Regions from separate parts of the Homo sapiens genome. Here region 2 is linked to region 1. Evidence: fine-mapped expression QTL. A gene starts in region 1. The other region holds a variant in brackets. All regions are shown on one strand. Distances are from middle to middle. Region 1 holds the start of CASP2 (caspase 2). Region 2 has its middle 39 kb from the start of PIP.

Region 1 (8,339 bases):
CAGCCACTGGGCTACCTCCTGGCAGGAAATTTGCAAACTGAGTTTAACAAGTTAGGATCAGCAGAGGGTAGAGGAGGGCCCTGGCAGATGTGGGGTCTAGAAGAGGACAGGAGTTATCAGGGCCTCCGGCCATTGTGCTGGGCCTTTGCCTGTACAATTGTTTCTCAAGCAGTTGTGTCCCTGTGGCTTTGGTGCGCCTGTGTGCACTTTCTCCCTCCACCTGGAGCATGGGCTAACACCGGAGGAAAGGAAAAGACAGAGTCAGACAGGGTAAGTGGGGCTCCCTCCCCTCTTCTCTCTAACGGGGCTGGATTGAGGGCCTCTGGCTGGGGAGGTGGGGGTGGAGATCCAGTAGGAGCAATAACAGAGGAAGGGCAGGGCCTGCCCCATCACCTGAATTCCAGAGATGCCAGTGTGCACTGAAGCCCCAGGCAGGGCGTGCCCAGGACCGGATCCTGGATGGTGGTAAGGGACAAAGCTGGAAGGGAGACTACAGGGAAGGAGAAAGGAAAGAAGGCAGAGCCATGACACAGTCAACTTACAGAATGGCTGGGAGTCAAAGCTCCTGGGCTGGTTTCCTGGCTATTCCACACACTCCAAGACATAGAGAGAATTTCGGAACTGGAGGGGACTCTACAGATGATTTATTTGAGATTGAAGAACCTAGAAACCAAACAAAGAAATATCATATGGTTACTTTGGTATCTGACACAGCCATGACACCAATTGCTAGTGTAGACACAATAGCTGTGTGTCTTTTTGCAGGAGCCTGGGGAGGGGCCATGGTGCCAATGCACTTACTGGGGAGACTGGAGAAGCCGCTTCTCCTCCTGTGCTGCGCCTCCTTCCTACTGGGGCTGGCTTTGCTGGGCATAAAGACGGACATCACCCCCGTTGCTTATTTCTTTCTCACATTGGGTGGCTTCTTCTTGTTTGCCTATCTCCTGGTCCGGTTTCTGGAATGGGGGCTTCGGTCCCAGCTCCAATCAATGCAGACTGAGAGCCCAGGGCCCTCAGGCAATGCACGGTGAGTTAAGGGTGGGCATCGTAAGAGGAATACACCTTGGGCCCATCCTCCCTCTCTCCCTGTAGTCTCTGAGGCAGAGAGTCTCTGGTTTCCTGTCATTGGCATCAGCGGGAGGAGGGGTCAGAGGCCAACAGAGGATCTTTTGCCCACAGCAGACAAAAAAAAGGGAAAAAGGGCTTCTTTCATGGAAGCCACCAATGGCCTTATTTCTCTTCCCTCAGGGACAATGAAGCCTTTGAAGTGCCAGTCTATGAAGAGGCCGTGGTGGGACTAGAATCCCAGTGCCGCCCCCAAGAGTTGGACCAACCACCCCCCTACAGCACTGTTGTGATACCCCCAGCACCTGAGGAGGAACAACCTAGCCATCCAGAGGGGTCCAGGAGAGCCAAACTGGAACAGAGGCGAATGGCCTCAGAGGGGTCCATGGCCCAGGAAGGAAGCCCTGGAAGAGCTCCAATCAACCTTCGGCTTCGGGGACCACGGGCTGTGTCCACTGCTCCTGATCTGCAGAGCTTGGCGGCAGTCCCCACATTAGAGCCTCTGACTCCACCCCCTGCCTATGATGTCTGCTTTGGTCACCCTGATGATGATAGTGTTTTTTATGAGGACAACTGGGCACCCCCTTAAATGACTCTCCCAAGATTTCTCTTCTCTCCACACCAGACCTCGTTCATTTGACTAACATTTTCCAGCGCCTACTATGTGTCAGAAACAAGTGTTTCTGCCTGGACATCATAAATGGGGACTTGGACCCTGAGGAGAGTCAGGCCACGGTAAGCCCTTCCCAGCTGAGATATGGGTGGCATAATTTGAGTCTTCTGGCAACATTTGGTGACCTACCCCATATCCAATATTTCCAGCGTTAGATTGAGGATGAGGTAGGGAGGTGATCCAGAGAAGGCGGAGAAGGAAGAAGTAACCTCTGAGTGGCGGCTATTGCTTCTGTTCCAGGTGCTGTTCGAGCTGTTAGAACCCTTAGGCTTGACAGCTTTGTGAGTTATTATTGAAAAATGAGGATTCCAAGAGTCAGAGGAGTTTGATAATGTGCACGAGGGCACACTGCTAGTAAATAACATTAAAATAACTGGAATGAACTCCTGATCCCAAAGCCTATTGTGTTTTCAACACAAGGTAATAGGAAGCCAAGCAACTTGCATGTCTCCCAATCCCTGTCTAGGGACAGCTGCTGGTGCAGGATGGAAGACTTCCTATAAACAGAATGGGCGACCAATTGTGTCTACAGAGGGGGTGGGCTGAGCATGGGCACGCATGTCCCCAGCCTCCTGGACGAGCAAAGTCAGTCAAAGCGCTGGTGATCCCTGCTCCGCGTGCGTAGCAGTGTCTGTGCCTCTCCTGCCCAGGGGCTAGAGAGCAGTCTCCAGTGCAGGGTCCCCATCCTATCTGAAAACAGTGGAGTCAGTGACCCCAGGTGGAGGGACTTCCAGTTTTAACAATGGGTTGGTATGAAGGCCAGAAGGAGTGAAACATGTGAACTTTCTGGCGAGGAGACTCCCTCTTGAATCATCCATATGTAGCCCCGGGGTCACTTGCGAAGAGTCTCTAACAGCTTCTGCCTCACTCCTAAGCTCTGACCGCTAGGCTTTCACCCCAGCCGCCGGTCCTGATTCCTGAGATCCCAATATTGAGCACCAGGTTTCCTGGAATTGTGTGCTGCGGCTGTGATGTAGGTTTCGGTCGCTGGAAGCTGCTAAACCATAGCTGACGCCCCCTCCTAAGCCAGCCTTCCTTCCCCGCGCGGGCATCTGTCCAGGGCCTTGTCGCGCTCTCAGTCTCCTTCGCAGCCTGGCCCCAACCGTTCAACTTCAATAAAGCAAAACTCCAGCCACGCCCGTCTCCGTGAAGTTATCGCCATAGGCCGGCCAGGGGGCGCGAGAGGCACCGGGGTGATTTCCGCGGGAATCGATAACCAATCGGATTCCCAGGCCGAACGGAGCACACCCGCCCGCCCTCGCTCTTTCCCCGCCCTTTGCCCCGCCCCGCTCCTTCCCCTCCTTTTGTCTGTCCGCCGAGCACCCCACTTCACCCCATTGGACCGCGCGGCCGCCGCTAGAGCTCTGCGCCTGCGCACGCACCGGGCCGGGGACTGGGTGGCCTGGTGTGTGGGCGCGGCAGGGCGCAGGCGCAGGCGCAGTGTGCGTCCGCGTCTGAGGGGAGGGATGTGGGGGAAGCGACGGCCCCCGGTTTGTTTGGGCTGTGGGCGGTGCGCAGCGGAGAGCCCGGGAAAAGCGGGAAATGGCGGCGCCGAGCGCGGGGTCTTGGTCCACCTTCCAGCACAAGGAGCTGATGGCCGCTGACAGGGGACGCAGGTAAGTAGGGAACGGTCTTAGGGCTCCTTAGGGGAGCCCAGGGAAGGGGAGCGTGGCCCCCAGGCGTGCGGCCCTGCAGCCCCCTCCCCTCGGAGCCCCGGAAAGCAGCCGTGTCCGCGCTTCCTGCCAAGGGTGGGACGCCCGCCCGAGCCGCTCCGAGCCTGACTCCGCGCAAGGGCCCGCGGGCGGACCTCTTGGCCTTGTCTCTCGTGGGAAAAGACTGCCCCAGCCTCCCTTTGTTCAACCCACGAGGGTTCTAAAGGGGAGGTCTTTGCAGTCCTGCCCGCTCTTGGGTTCTCTTGAAGATTCTTCATCCTTTCCTCTGGCTCCCTTATGAGGGAAACTATAAAAAGACCATACTCTGTCTCCTTAAAAATCGACGAGACCTTCTGCAGACCTCGGTGCTCTGCCTGATGTGCATTTGATTTGTATCGATTGTATCATGATCTGCATGGCTTTGCATAGAATGACCAGATTTTCAAAGAAGTCAATACAGGGTTTGGAAATTGAGTACTTTTGGCAGAACAAGGGGGTTCCTGTGGCTCCGAGTGTCCATGCCTCTGCCCCGGTCATTCCATTTCATGGCAGTCATCACCCAGGAGAACATTGTAATGCCTCCTGCTCGAGACTGAAGATTAAGGTCTTCGCAAAGGGAACCTGCAGAAGGACACAGAATTAAGACGTAGGAACTCCGTGGTGCCCTTCGCCCCTCCTCCCCTTCCAGTTGTGTCCTGAAATTCTAAATGATTGGAAACTTTTATAATGTTCACGTTTAAGACTCTCATACTACAGAGTAGAGGAAGGAGCGGGTGTGCAGAGGGGGTGATGCTTCAGATTAAAACTAAAGAGTTGATTGAAAATTCAAGTCTGGAACTCGAGAGAGTTAAGAACTATAAGTCAGTAAGTTGCAAGTATGGGTGAGATTGTCTAGGGAAAGGCTCTTTGAAGGGGCGTCCCTAATGGAATATCAATATTAAGGGCAGGCCAAAGGCCCTCTAAAGAAAACAGGAACTGGGTAGGCAGAGAGAAGACTCCCAAAGAATGCTGTCATGGAAACCAGAGGAAGAGAACGATTTAAGGAGCGAATACTACTGGTAAACTAATGGAAGAAATCTGCTGCACCACTGGTTAGTATCCCAGCTGCAGTGTTATATGTGATCGTTATTACTGCTTTGACGTATTCGAAAGTGATTCATTCTTAAATAGGTTTTTTTATTTGTATAGCTCTTTTTCTTGTAGCCAGTTTTTCCTGAAAGTCTTGGGTAATGGAAATATTACAGTAAAAAGAAGAAAAAATGGAGTTTCAGACTCATTTTTCCAAACCTCAGATTCATTGGCTGCTTCCAACCCACTTCATCTGTTTTAGGATCCCACCTGCTATCTTAGTTCTCCCAGTTCTTCCAGGACCCAGCTCTTCCCTCTTCTAACTATAAATCTCTCACCCAATAGCATCTGCAAGCCAAGTGCATCCATTCCATAGATGTGTGGTATTTCACTGACTCTAAGATACACATTTTTTCCCTCCCTTTTTTTTTTTTTTTTTTTTTTTGGACGGAGTCTTTGCTGTGTCACCCAGGCTGGAGTGCAGTGGAATGATCTCAGCTCACTGCAACCTCCATCTCCAAGGTTCAAGCGATTCTCCTGTCTCAGCCTCCCGAGTAGCTAGGACTACAGGCATGCAGCACCACACTCGGCTAATTTTTTGTATTTTTAGTAGAGACAGGGTTTCACCATGTTGGCCAGGCTGGTCTTGAACTCCTGACCTCAGGTGATCTGCCCACCTTAGCCTCCCAAAGTGCAGGGATTACAGGCATGAGCCACCGTGCCCGGCCTCCCCTCATGTTTTAACACCTTAGAAATCAGAATGCATTTTAGAGTAGGTTTTTAAGTTATAAATGGAAGTTATTGTATTTTCACTGCTATCAGGTGCCACCCTTCCTGCTGTTACATATGTGGAAAATGTGACGGGGCAGGCTAGAGAACTCTGGATTTATGTAAACTAGGCATGTAGATGACATATTGGCAATAGGATTATTTTAGTTTATAAGCAGAAGCTGATCTCTTTGCAAGCCTGTAGCAAAATTAGCTGGAGGTGACAGCACATGCCTGTAGTCCCAACTACTTGGGAGGCTGAGGCAGGTGGATCGCTTGAGTCCAGGAGTTCTGGGCTATAGTGTGCTATGCCAGTCACGTGTCCACATTAAGTTCAGCATCAGTGTGGTGATGTCCTGGGAGTCAGGGTCCACCAGGTTGCCTAAGGAAGGGTGAACCCGCCCAGGTCAAAAATGGAGCAAGTCAAAACTCCTGTGCTGCTCTGTAATGGGATCATACCTGTGAATAGCCACTGCACTCCAGCCTGGGTGGCACAGTGAGACTCTTTTAAAGTAAATAGATAAATACCTATCCACTGTGACTTTCTGTCATACTTTCTGCTTATCCACATCTTAACAGGATTCGCCATTTTGTCACTGGAACTTAAAAGTTTTAAAAAACATGTAATTATATGTTTATATCACTAGTGAAAGAGAGTTAGTGTCTGCCTCATTTATTTTCTGTTAAAGCCATTGGCTTGAGTTTTTACCATAGTGTTTTAACCCTCATCTAAGATCATTATAAACTTACATCACTTTCACCAGCTTAGATAATGTGAGATGTTTTCTGAAATAATTCTCTTTATTAAAATTGGTCTATCAGAGAAGTATTCCTTCTCATAAATATGTGTACTTGGGGGTATTGTTTTGCTTAAGACAGATATTTCCCTCCTCTAGTCAGACCATTCATCTCAGATGATCTCAGCTGAACATAAACCATAAGGAATTAGACATTATTTTCTTATGATCAATGTGTTCCTGCTTAGTACATCTTTGCTTTAACCAGATTTAAGAAATATGCATAATCTTGGTTATTGTAAGTCTTATTCTTTTTGTTCTTCCTATTCATGCCTCTTCCACTCCACTCTTCTGTGTCAAATTGTGACTTGACAGCCTTTCCTTCTACCGTTTATCTGTAGGATATTGGGAGTGTGTGGCATGCATCCTCATCATCAGGAAACTCTAAAAAAGAACCGAGTGGTGCTAGCCAAACAGCTGTTGTTGAGCGAATTGTTAGAACATCTTCTGGAGAAGGACATCATCACCTTGGAAATGAGGGAGCTCATCCAGGTATCTGGAGGCAAAAGAGAGAAGATAAATTGATCATGGGGTGGGAATAGAGCATGACAAAATATGGAAAGGGTGTCGTATCTTTCTTCCTTTTTTTTTTTTTTTTTTTTGAGACAGAGTCTCTGTCTCCCAGGCTGGAGTACAATGGCGCGATCTTGGCTCACTGCAGCCTCTGCCTCCCAGGTTCAAGTGATTCTCCTGCCTCAGCCTCCCAAGTAGCTGGGACTACAGGCAGGTGCCACCATGCCTGGCTAATTTTTTGGATTTTTAGTAGAGACAGGGTTTCACTGTGTTAGCCAGGAGGGTGTCGATCTCCTGACCTCATGATCCACCTGCCTCGGCCTCCCAAAGTGCTGGGATTACAGGTGTGAGCCACCACACCCAGCTGGATGTTGTACCTTTCTAAAGAAATGGAAATGCCCTTCTACCGTAGAGCATTTGAGAGAAATGATATATAACTCAAGAATAACAGAAAGGACTTCACCCATACATACACTTTTCCTGTAAAAAGAATTCTTGGATGAGGACACTACTAGGAAGCTCATGTGGAGAAATAGAATTATAGCTAGAGAAGTAAATATGATTTCATGTTTTATTCTTGTGTCTTAGGCCAAAGTGGGCAGTTTCAGCCAGAATGTGGAACTCCTCAACTTGCTGCCTAAGAGGGGTCCCCAAGCTTTTGATGCCTTCTGTGAAGCACTGAGGGAGACCAAGCAAGGCCACCTGGAGGATATGTTGCTCACCACCCTTTCTGGGCTTCAGCATGTACTCCCACCGGTATGAAGCTTTAGTAATATGGGGTGTTGGGAAGGGTTAGTTTGACTGGAAAGGAATTTGTAAGTCAGAGTGAGGGAGACTAGATTTTGTTGTATTTGGACCGGACCACTTCCCTAAGGTCTGTCATCATGAGTTTTGATTTCTTACAGTTGAGCTGTGACTACGACTTGAGTCTCCCTTTTCCGGTGTGTGAGTCCTGTCCCCTTTACAAGAAGCTCCGCCTGTCGACAGGTGAGAATTGATGGACTAAAAGGGGTCCCAGGCCAGGTGCCACGGCTTACGCCTATAATCCCAGCACTTTGCGGGGCCAAGGCGGGTGGATCACCTGAGGTCAGGAGTTCGAGACCAGCCTGGCCAACATGGTGAAACCCCGTCTCTACTAAAAATATAAAAACTAGCTGGGCATGGTGGTGGGTGCCTGTAATCCCAGCTACTCGGGAAGCTGGGGCAGGAGAATTGCTAGAACCCAGGAGACGGAGGTTGCAGTGAGCCAACACGGTGCCACCGCACTCCAGCCTTGCCAACAGAGTGAGACTCAGTCTCAAAAAATAAAATAAAATAAAATAAAAAGGAGGGGGGTGTCCCAGATTGACTTCCCCTTTCTTGTCTGGTATCTGGCTTTGTCCTAACATGAGCCCTTTTTTTTGTTTTTTTTTTTTTTTGTTGTGTTTTTTTTCAGAAATAGGGTCTTGTTCTGTCACCCAGGCTGGAATGCAGTGACACCACCATAGCTCACTGCAGCGTTGAACTCCTGGGTTGAAGGGCTCCTCCTGCCTCAGCCTCCCAAGTACCTGGGATTACAGGTGCATGCCACCACACCTAGCTCATTTTTAAATTTTTTGTAGAGAAGGAGTCTCACTTTGTTACCCAGGCTGGTGTCAAACTTCTGGCCTCAAATGATCCTTCCGCCTTGGCCTCCCAAAGTGCTGGGATTATAGGCGTAAGCCACCATGCCCAGCTGAGACATAGTTTATATTGGGAACAGTTGTCAGTAAATTTGTTAAGGGCTAGTAGGACAGTTTATGCAGGAGTTTGTGGTTTTTTGTT
Region 2 (8,339 bases), 200 kb before region 1:
CTCAGCTGGAGATCTGAGATCTGGCAGACTGCCTCCTCAAGTGGGTCCCTGACCCCCGAGTAGCCTTTCTGGGAGGCACCCCCCAGTAGTGGCAGACTGACACCTCACACGTCTGGGTACTCCTCTGAGACAAAACCTCCAGAGGAACGATCAGACAGCAGCGTTTGCGGTTCACCAACATCCGCTCTTCTGCAGCCATCACGGCTGAAACCCAGGCAAACAGGGTCTGGAGTGGACCTCTAGCAAAATCCAACACATCTGCAGCTGAGGGTCCTGTCTGTTAGAAGGAAAACTAACAAACAGAAAGGACATCCACACCAAAAACCCATCTGTACATCATCATCATCAAAGACCAAAGGTAGATAAAACCACAAAGATGGGAAAAAACAGAGCAGAAAAACTGGAAACTCTAAAAATCAGAGAGCCTCTCCTCCTCCAAAGGAACGCAGCTCCTCACCAGCAATGGAACAAAACTGGACGGAGAATGACTTTGATGAGTCGAGAGAAGAAGGCTTCAGAAGATCAAACTACTCCGAGCTACAGGAGGAAATTCAAACCAATGGCAAAGAAGTTAAAAGCTTTGAAAAAAAATTAGACTAATGGATCACTAGAATAACCAACGCAGAGAAGTCCTTAAAGGACCTGATGGAGCTGAAAACAAAGGCACGAGAGCTACGTGATGAATGCAGAAGCCTCAGTAGCCGATGCGATCAACTGGAAGAAAGGGTATCAGTGAGGGAAGATCAAATGAATGAAATGAAGCGAGAAGAGAAGTTTAGAGAAAAAAGAATAAAAAGAAACGAACAAAGCCTTCAAGAAATATGGGACTATGTGAAAAGACCAAATCTATGTCTGATTGGTGTACCTGAAAGTGACGGGGAGAATGGAACTAAGTTGGAAAACACTCTGCAGGATATTATCCAGGAGAACTTCCCCAATCTAGGAAGGTAGGCCAACTTTCAAATTCAGGAAATACAGAGAACACCACAAAGATACTCCTCAAGAAGAGCAACTCCAAGACACATAATTGTCAGATTCACCAAAGTTGAAATGACGGAAAAAATGTTAAGGGCAGCCAGAGAGAAAGGTCGGGTTACCCACAAAGGGAAGCCCATCAGATTAACAGCTGATCTCTCGGCAGAAACTCTACAAGACAGAAGAGAGTGGGGACCAATATTCAACATTCTTAAAGAAAAGAACTTTCAACCCAGAATTTCATATCCAGCCAAACTGAGCTTTATAAGTGAAGGAGAAGTAAAATCCTTTACAGACAAGCAAATGCTGATTTTGTTACCACCAGGCCTGCCCTAAAAGAACTCCTGAAGGAAGCACTAAACATGCAAAGGAAAAACTGGTACCAGCCACTGCAAAAGCATGCCAAACTGTAAAGACCATCAAGGCTAGGAAGAAACTGCATCAACTAACAGGCAAAATAACCAGCTAACATCATAATGACAGGATCAAATTCACACATAACAATATTAACTTTAAATGTAAATGGGCTAAATGCTCCAATGAAAAGACACAGACTGGCAAATTGGATAAAGACTCAAGACCCATCAGTGTGCTGTATTCAGGAAACCCATCTCACGTGCAGAGACACACATAGGCTCAAAATAAAGAGATGGAGGAAGATCTACCAGCAAATGGAAAACAAAAAAGGGCAGGGGTTGCAATCCTAGTCTCTGATAAAACAGACTTTAAACCAACAAAGATCAAAAGAGACAAAGAAGGCCATTACATAATGGTAAAGGGATCAATTCAACAAGAGCTAACTATCCTAAATATGTATGCACCCAATACAGGAGCACCCAGATTCATAAAGCAAGTCCTTAGTGACCTACAAAGAGACTTAGACTCCCACACAATAATAATGGCAGACTGTAACACCCCACTGTCAACATTAGACAGATCAATCAGACAGAAAGTTAACAAGGATATCCAGGAACTGAACTCAGCTCTGCACCAAGCAAACCTAATAGACATCTACAGAACTCTCCACCCCAAATCAACAGAATATACTTTCTTTTCAGCACCACACCACACCTACTCCAAAATTGACCACATACTTGGAAGTAAAGCACTCCTCAGCAAATGTAAAAGAACAGAAATTATAACAAACTGTCTCTCAGACCACAGTGCAATCTAACTAGAACTCAGGATTAAGAAACTCACTCAAAACCGCTCAACTACATGGAAACTGAACAACCTGCTCCTGAATGACTACTGGGGACATAATGAAATGAAGGCAGAAATAAAGATGGTCTTCAAAACCAACAAGAACAAAGACACAAATACCAGAATCTCTGGGACACATTCAAAGCAGCGTGTAGAGGGAAATTTATAGGACTAAATGCCCACAAGAGAAAGCAGGAAAGATCTAAAATTGACACCCTAACATCACAATTAAAAGAACTAGAGAAGCAAGAGTAAACACATTCAAAAGCTAGCAGAAGGCAAGAAATAACTAAGATCAGAGCAGAACTGAAGGAGATAGAGACACAAAAAACCCTTCAAAAAATTAGTGAATCCAGGAGCTGGTTTTTAGAAAAGATTAACAAAATTGATAGACCACTAGCAAGACTAATAAAGAAGAAAAGAGAGAAGAATCAAATAGACACAATAAAAAATAATAAAGGGGATATCACCACCAATCCCACAGAAATACAAACTACCATCAGAGAATACTATAAACACCTCTACGCAAATAAACTAGAAAATCTAGAAGAAATGGATAAATTCCTTGACACATACATCCTCCCAAGACTAAACCAGGAAGAAGTTGAATCTCTGAATAGACCAATAAAAGGCTCTGAAATTGAGGCAATAATCAATAGCTTACCAACCAAAAAAAGTCCAGGACCAGATGGATTCACAGCCGAATTCTACCAGAGGTACAAAGAGGAGCTGGTACCAATCCTTATGAAACTATTCCAATCAATAGAAAAAGAGGGAATCCTCCCTCACTCATTTTATGAGGCCAGCATCATCCTAATACCAAAGCCTGGCAGAGACACAACCAAAACAGAGAATTTTAGACCAATATCCTTGATGAACATCAATGCAAAAATCCTCAATAAAATACTGGCAAACCAAATCCAGCAGCACATCAAAAAGTTTATCCACCATGATCAAGTGGGCTTCATCCCTGGGATGCAAGGCTGGTTCAACATATGCAAACCAATAAATGTAATCCAGCATATAAACAGAACCAAAGAGAAAAACCACATGATTATCTCAATAGATGCAGAAAAGGCCTTTGACAAAATTCAACAACCCTTCATGCTAAAAACTCTCAATAAATTAGGTATTGATGGGATGGATCTCAAAATAATAAGAGCTATTTATGACAAACCCACAGCCAATATCATACTGAATGGGCAAACACTGGAAGCATTCCCTTTGAAAACGGGCACAAGACAGGGATGCCCTCTCTCACCACTCCTATTCAACATAGTGTTGGAAGTTCTGGCCAGGGCAATCAGGCAGGAGAAGGAAATAAAGGGTATTCAATTAGGAAAAGAGGAAGTCAAATTGTCCCTGTTTGAAGATGACATGATTGTATATCTAGAAAACCCCATCGTCTCAGCCCAAAATCTCCTCAAGCTGATAAGCAACTTCAGCAAAGTCTCAGGATACAAAATGAATGTACAAAAATCACAAGCATTCTTATACACCAATAACAGACAAACAGAGAGCCAAATCATGAGTGAACGAGTGAACTCCCATTCACAATTGCTTCAAAGAGAATGAAATACCTAGGAATCCAACTTACAAGGGATGTGAAGGACCTCTTCAAGGAGAACTACAAACCACTGCTCAATGAAATAAAAGAGGATACAAACAAATGGAAGAACATTCCATGCTCATGGATAGGAAGAATCAATATCGTGAAAATGGCCATACTGCCCAAGGTAATTTATAGATTCAATGCCATCCCCATCAGCTACCAATGACTCTCTTCACAGAACTGGAAAAAACTACTTTAAAGTTCATATGGAACCAAAAAAGAGCCCGCATCGCCAAGTCAATCCTAAGCCAAAAGAACAAAGCTGGAGGCATCACACTACCTGACTTCAAACTATTCTACAAGGCTACAGTAACCAAAACAGCATGGTACTGGTACCAAAACAGAGATATAGACCAATGGAACAGAACAGAGCCCTCAGAAATAATGCCGCACATCTACAACTATCTGATCTTTGACAAACCTGAGAAAAACAAGAAATGGGGAAAGGATTCCCTACTTAATAAATGGTGCTGGGAAAATTGGCTAGCCATATGGAGAAAGCTTAAACTGGATTCCTTCCTTACACCTTATACAAAAATTAATTCAAGATGGATTAAAGACTTACATGTTAGACCTAAAATCATAAAAGCCCTAGAAGAAAACCTAGGCAATACCATTCAGGACATAGGCATGGGCAAGGACTTCATGTCTAAAACACCAAAAGCAATGGCAACAAAAGCCAAAAATGACAAATGGGATCTAATTAAACTAAAGAGCTTCTGCACAGCAAAAGAAACTACCATCAGAGTGAACAGGCAACCTACAGAATGGGAGGACATTTTTGAAACCTACTCATCTGACAAAGGACTAATATCCAGAATCTACAATGAACTCAAACAAATTTACAAGAAAAAAACAAACAACCCCATTAAAAAGTGGTTGAAGGATATGAATAGATACTTCTCAAAAGAGGACATTTATGCAGCAAAAAACACATGAAAAAATGCTCATCATCACTGGCCATCAGAGAAATGCAAATCAAAACCACAATGAGATACCATCTCACACCAGTTAGAATGGCGATCATTAAAAGGTCAGGAAACACAGGTG[C/T]TGGAGAGGATGTCAAGAAATAGGAACACCTTTACACTGTTGGTGGGACTGTACACTAGTTCAACCATTGTGGAAGTCAGTGTGGCGATTCCTCAGGGATCTAGAACTAGAAATACCATTTGACCCAGCCATCCCATTACTGGGTATACAACCAAAGGATTATAAATCATGCTGCTATAAAGACACATGCACATGTATGTTTATAGCGGCACTATTCACAATAGCAAAGACTTGGAACCAACCTAAATGTCCAACAATGATAGACTGGATTAAGAAAATATGGCACATATACACCATGGAATACTATGCAGCCATAAAAAATGATGAGTTCGTGTCCTTTGTAGGGACATGGATGAAACTGGAAACCATCATTCTCAGAAAACTATCGCAAGGACAAAACACCAAACACCGCATGTTCTCACTCATAGGTGGGAATTGAACAATGAGAACACATGGACACAGGAAGGGGAACATCACACACCGAGACCTGTTGTGGGGTGGGGGGAGGGGGGAGGGATAGCATTAGGAGATATACCTAATGCTAAATGATGAGTTAATGGGTGCAGCACACCAACATGGTACATGTATACATATGTAACAAACCTGCACGTTGTGCACATGTACCCTAAAACTTAAAAGTATAATAATAATAAAATAAAATAAAAAAGAACATTACAACATGCTCTGCAGGGGTAAATGCTTTATCATGTATTACTACATTTTAATCACATCTTTGTAAAGCCAGAAGCATTTTGAAAGTCACATTACAGACATTGTTTAAACATAGTTTGTATTTACCAAAGCATAGGACGTTGTATCATCTCATATTAATTAGTTAGTTGGCTCAAAATTAGTGGTAATGACTTAGTAATTCAATAATTTCTCTTAGCTTTAAAACCTTCTTTATTTCAGAACTATTTCACCTCTTGGTTTTTGTTTTTGCTGTGCATCACTGCCTGCCAGCTGCTAATCTCTTATCTCCCAGTGGATTACGTGTCCAGTGAAGGGACTGAATGAGATACTAGTGGCAAATTATATTGATGATTCATATTTTGAATAAATAGATTAAGCTTGTATAAACAAACAAACAAAAAAATCAAAAACAGGAGATGCTGGCATGGATGTGGTGATCAGGAAACACTTCTACACTGCTGGTGGGGATGTAAACTACTACAGCCACCAAGGAAAACAGTGTGGAGATTCTTTAAAGAACTAAAAGTAGATCCACCATTTGATCCAGCAATCTCACTACTGGGTATCTACTCAGAGGAAAAGAAGTCATTATACAAAAAAGATACTTGCACACACATGTCTATAGCAGCACAATTTACAGTTGCAAAATCATGAGACCAACCCAAATGCCTATCAATCAACAAGTGGATAAAGAAACCGTGATATAAACATATGATGGAATACTACTGAGCCATAAAAAGGAATGAATTAACAGCATTTGCACTGACCTGAATGAGATTGGAGACTATTATTCTAAGTGAAGTAACTCAGGAATGGAAAACCAAATGTCGTATGTTTTCACTGATATGTGGCAGCTAAGCTATGAGGACACAAAGGCATAAGAATTATACAATGGACTTTGGGGACTTATGGGGAAGAGTGGGAGGGAAGTGAGGGATAAAAGACAACATATATGGTGCAGTTGTATACTGTGTAGGTGATGAGTGCACCAAAATCTCACAAATCACCACTAAAGAACTTATTCATATAACCAAATACCATGTGTACCCCAATAACTTATGGAAAAATAAATAAATAAATAAAGTGTTAAAGAAATATCACAATGGAACAAGGCCCCTAGAAATTAACCTGAGTGCTGAAGCACTTTGTGAGCTAGAATCCGAGACAAAATAGTAATTGCAATGGTCTATTACCTTGATTTGTCCAGAGCTGAGGAGTCTCCCAGGATAGAAGACTTTCAGTGCCAAAACTCAGAAAGTTCTGGGCAAACCAGGATAAGGTAGTCATCCTCAAGACGGTGGAATGCAGAAAGTGGGCAGAAATGCCAAGGTGTGATATCAATTATTTATCTAAATTATCTCAAAATGTGTCCAGGGCTGGGAGGCAGACATTTACATGAAAAGCGTGGGTGAGATTTCTGTGTGTACAATCCAGACAGATGAAGTTCTTGGTTCACATGGGGCTTTCTATCAACGACCATTCACCAATGGAATTGGAGCCCTGAAAATTTACCCAGGGAATGTGTCTGGGGTCACTCCCTAGAGATACTACAAGACTGAATACAGGGTTGGAGTGCAAGGGCAGGGTACTTGGATCAGGGTAGTGCCAAACTGGCAAATGGAGATTCAGTGACAACTATTTCACAGTATTTAAGAGGTTGAAATGGCAAGCAAGTGAAGATAGGTGGATTAAATTGATCCCTGACACAAGCACATTATTTTGCCTATAAAACCAGGAAGAACAATCTGTCTCCTGTCCTGAGGGCACATTCATGACATTTGCCATTGTGCAGCTACTGTTGACTTTTCCTGCAGAAGAAAAATCTGTCTAAAAGGACATCTTGAAAGGCTAAGAGGGCGTGTTGGGACCTTCTGCCAGCTGGCCTGAAGAGGCTCACAAACCACCTCTTCCTCCTGGTTCCTTTGGAAATTCCACTGGGCAATGCAGACTGGTTCATCTTCTTGTACTTAACTGAGCTGCCAGGTTGGAAATAGTCCTAAACTTTTCGCACAGAGCTGTAATCTTAAACTGTAATTTTATTTTATTTTATTTTTAAAATTTTTAAAATTTTAAATTTTTTTTTAAATTATTATACTTTTAAGTTATAGGGTACATGTGCACTAGGTGCAAGTTTGTTACATATGTATACATGTGCCATGTTGGTGTGCTGCACCCATTAACTTGTCATTTACATTAGGTATATCTCCTAATGCTATCCCTCCCCGCTCCCCCCACCCCACGACAGGCCCCGGTGTGTGATGTTCCCCTTCCTGTGTCCAAGTGTTCTCATTGTTCAACTCCCACTGATGAGTGAGAACATGTGGTGGTTGGTTTTTTGTCCTTGCGATAGTTTTCTGAAAATGATGGTTTCCAGCTTCATCCATGTCCCTACAAAGAAATAGGAACACTTTTACACTGTTGGTGGGACTGTAAACTACTTCAACCATTGTGGAAGACAATGTGGCAATTCCTCAAGGATCTACAATTAAACTGTAATTTTAAATTGAGAGATGCAACATGGTGTAATGAGAAGTAGATGGCTTTTGTAACTACAGAAACCTAGTTTAACCTGGCCACTTACTTCCTGTATAACCTTAGGTACATTAATTAGTTTCTATGATCCTTAGTTCTCTCTCCATAACATTGGTTTAATAATATGTATCTCAGGGATTTTGTGATACATAGACATAACCATATGAACATGGAAAGCACAGTGTACATGAGGTATAGGAAGCCCCCCTTCCCCCCACCCCCCACAAAGTGGTCTAATTCTCTATCTGTGTGTGTGACTGTGTGTGCAAAACTG

The links.
Region 2: its variant is fine-mapped to the expression of CASP2 in T cells (TOPMed, PIP 0.95).

Annotation. Positions count from the first base shown.
Region 1 is chr7:143,285,176-143,293,514 of GRCh38, forward strand. It overlaps CASP2 (caspase 2), which reads left to right and starts at 3,176. Exons shown (of 11, transcript NM_032982.4): 1 at 3,176-3,354; 2 at 6,365-6,515; 3 at 7,125-7,292; 4 at 7,442-7,523. The coding sequence starts at 3,281. TMEM139 (transmembrane protein 139) reads left to right here. Exons shown (of 3, transcript NM_001282876.2): 1 at 1-270; 2 at 766-1,027; 3 at 1,249-2,873. The coding sequence starts at 783. The coding sequence ends at 1,654. It overlaps TMEM139-AS1 (TMEM139 antisense RNA 1), which reads right to left and starts at 1,159. Exons shown (of 3, transcript NR_133932.1): 1 at 802-1,159; 2 at 543-663. It also overlaps the pseudogene RN7SL535P. RefSeq lists an enhancer at 1-1,008 and a silencer at 2,803-3,552.
Region 2 is chr7:143,088,938-143,097,276 of GRCh38, forward strand. No RefSeq gene overlaps it. Among named protein-coding and RNA genes, the nearest start is that of PIP, 39 kb to the right of the region's middle. The variant C/T (reference allele first, on the strand shown) is at 4,841.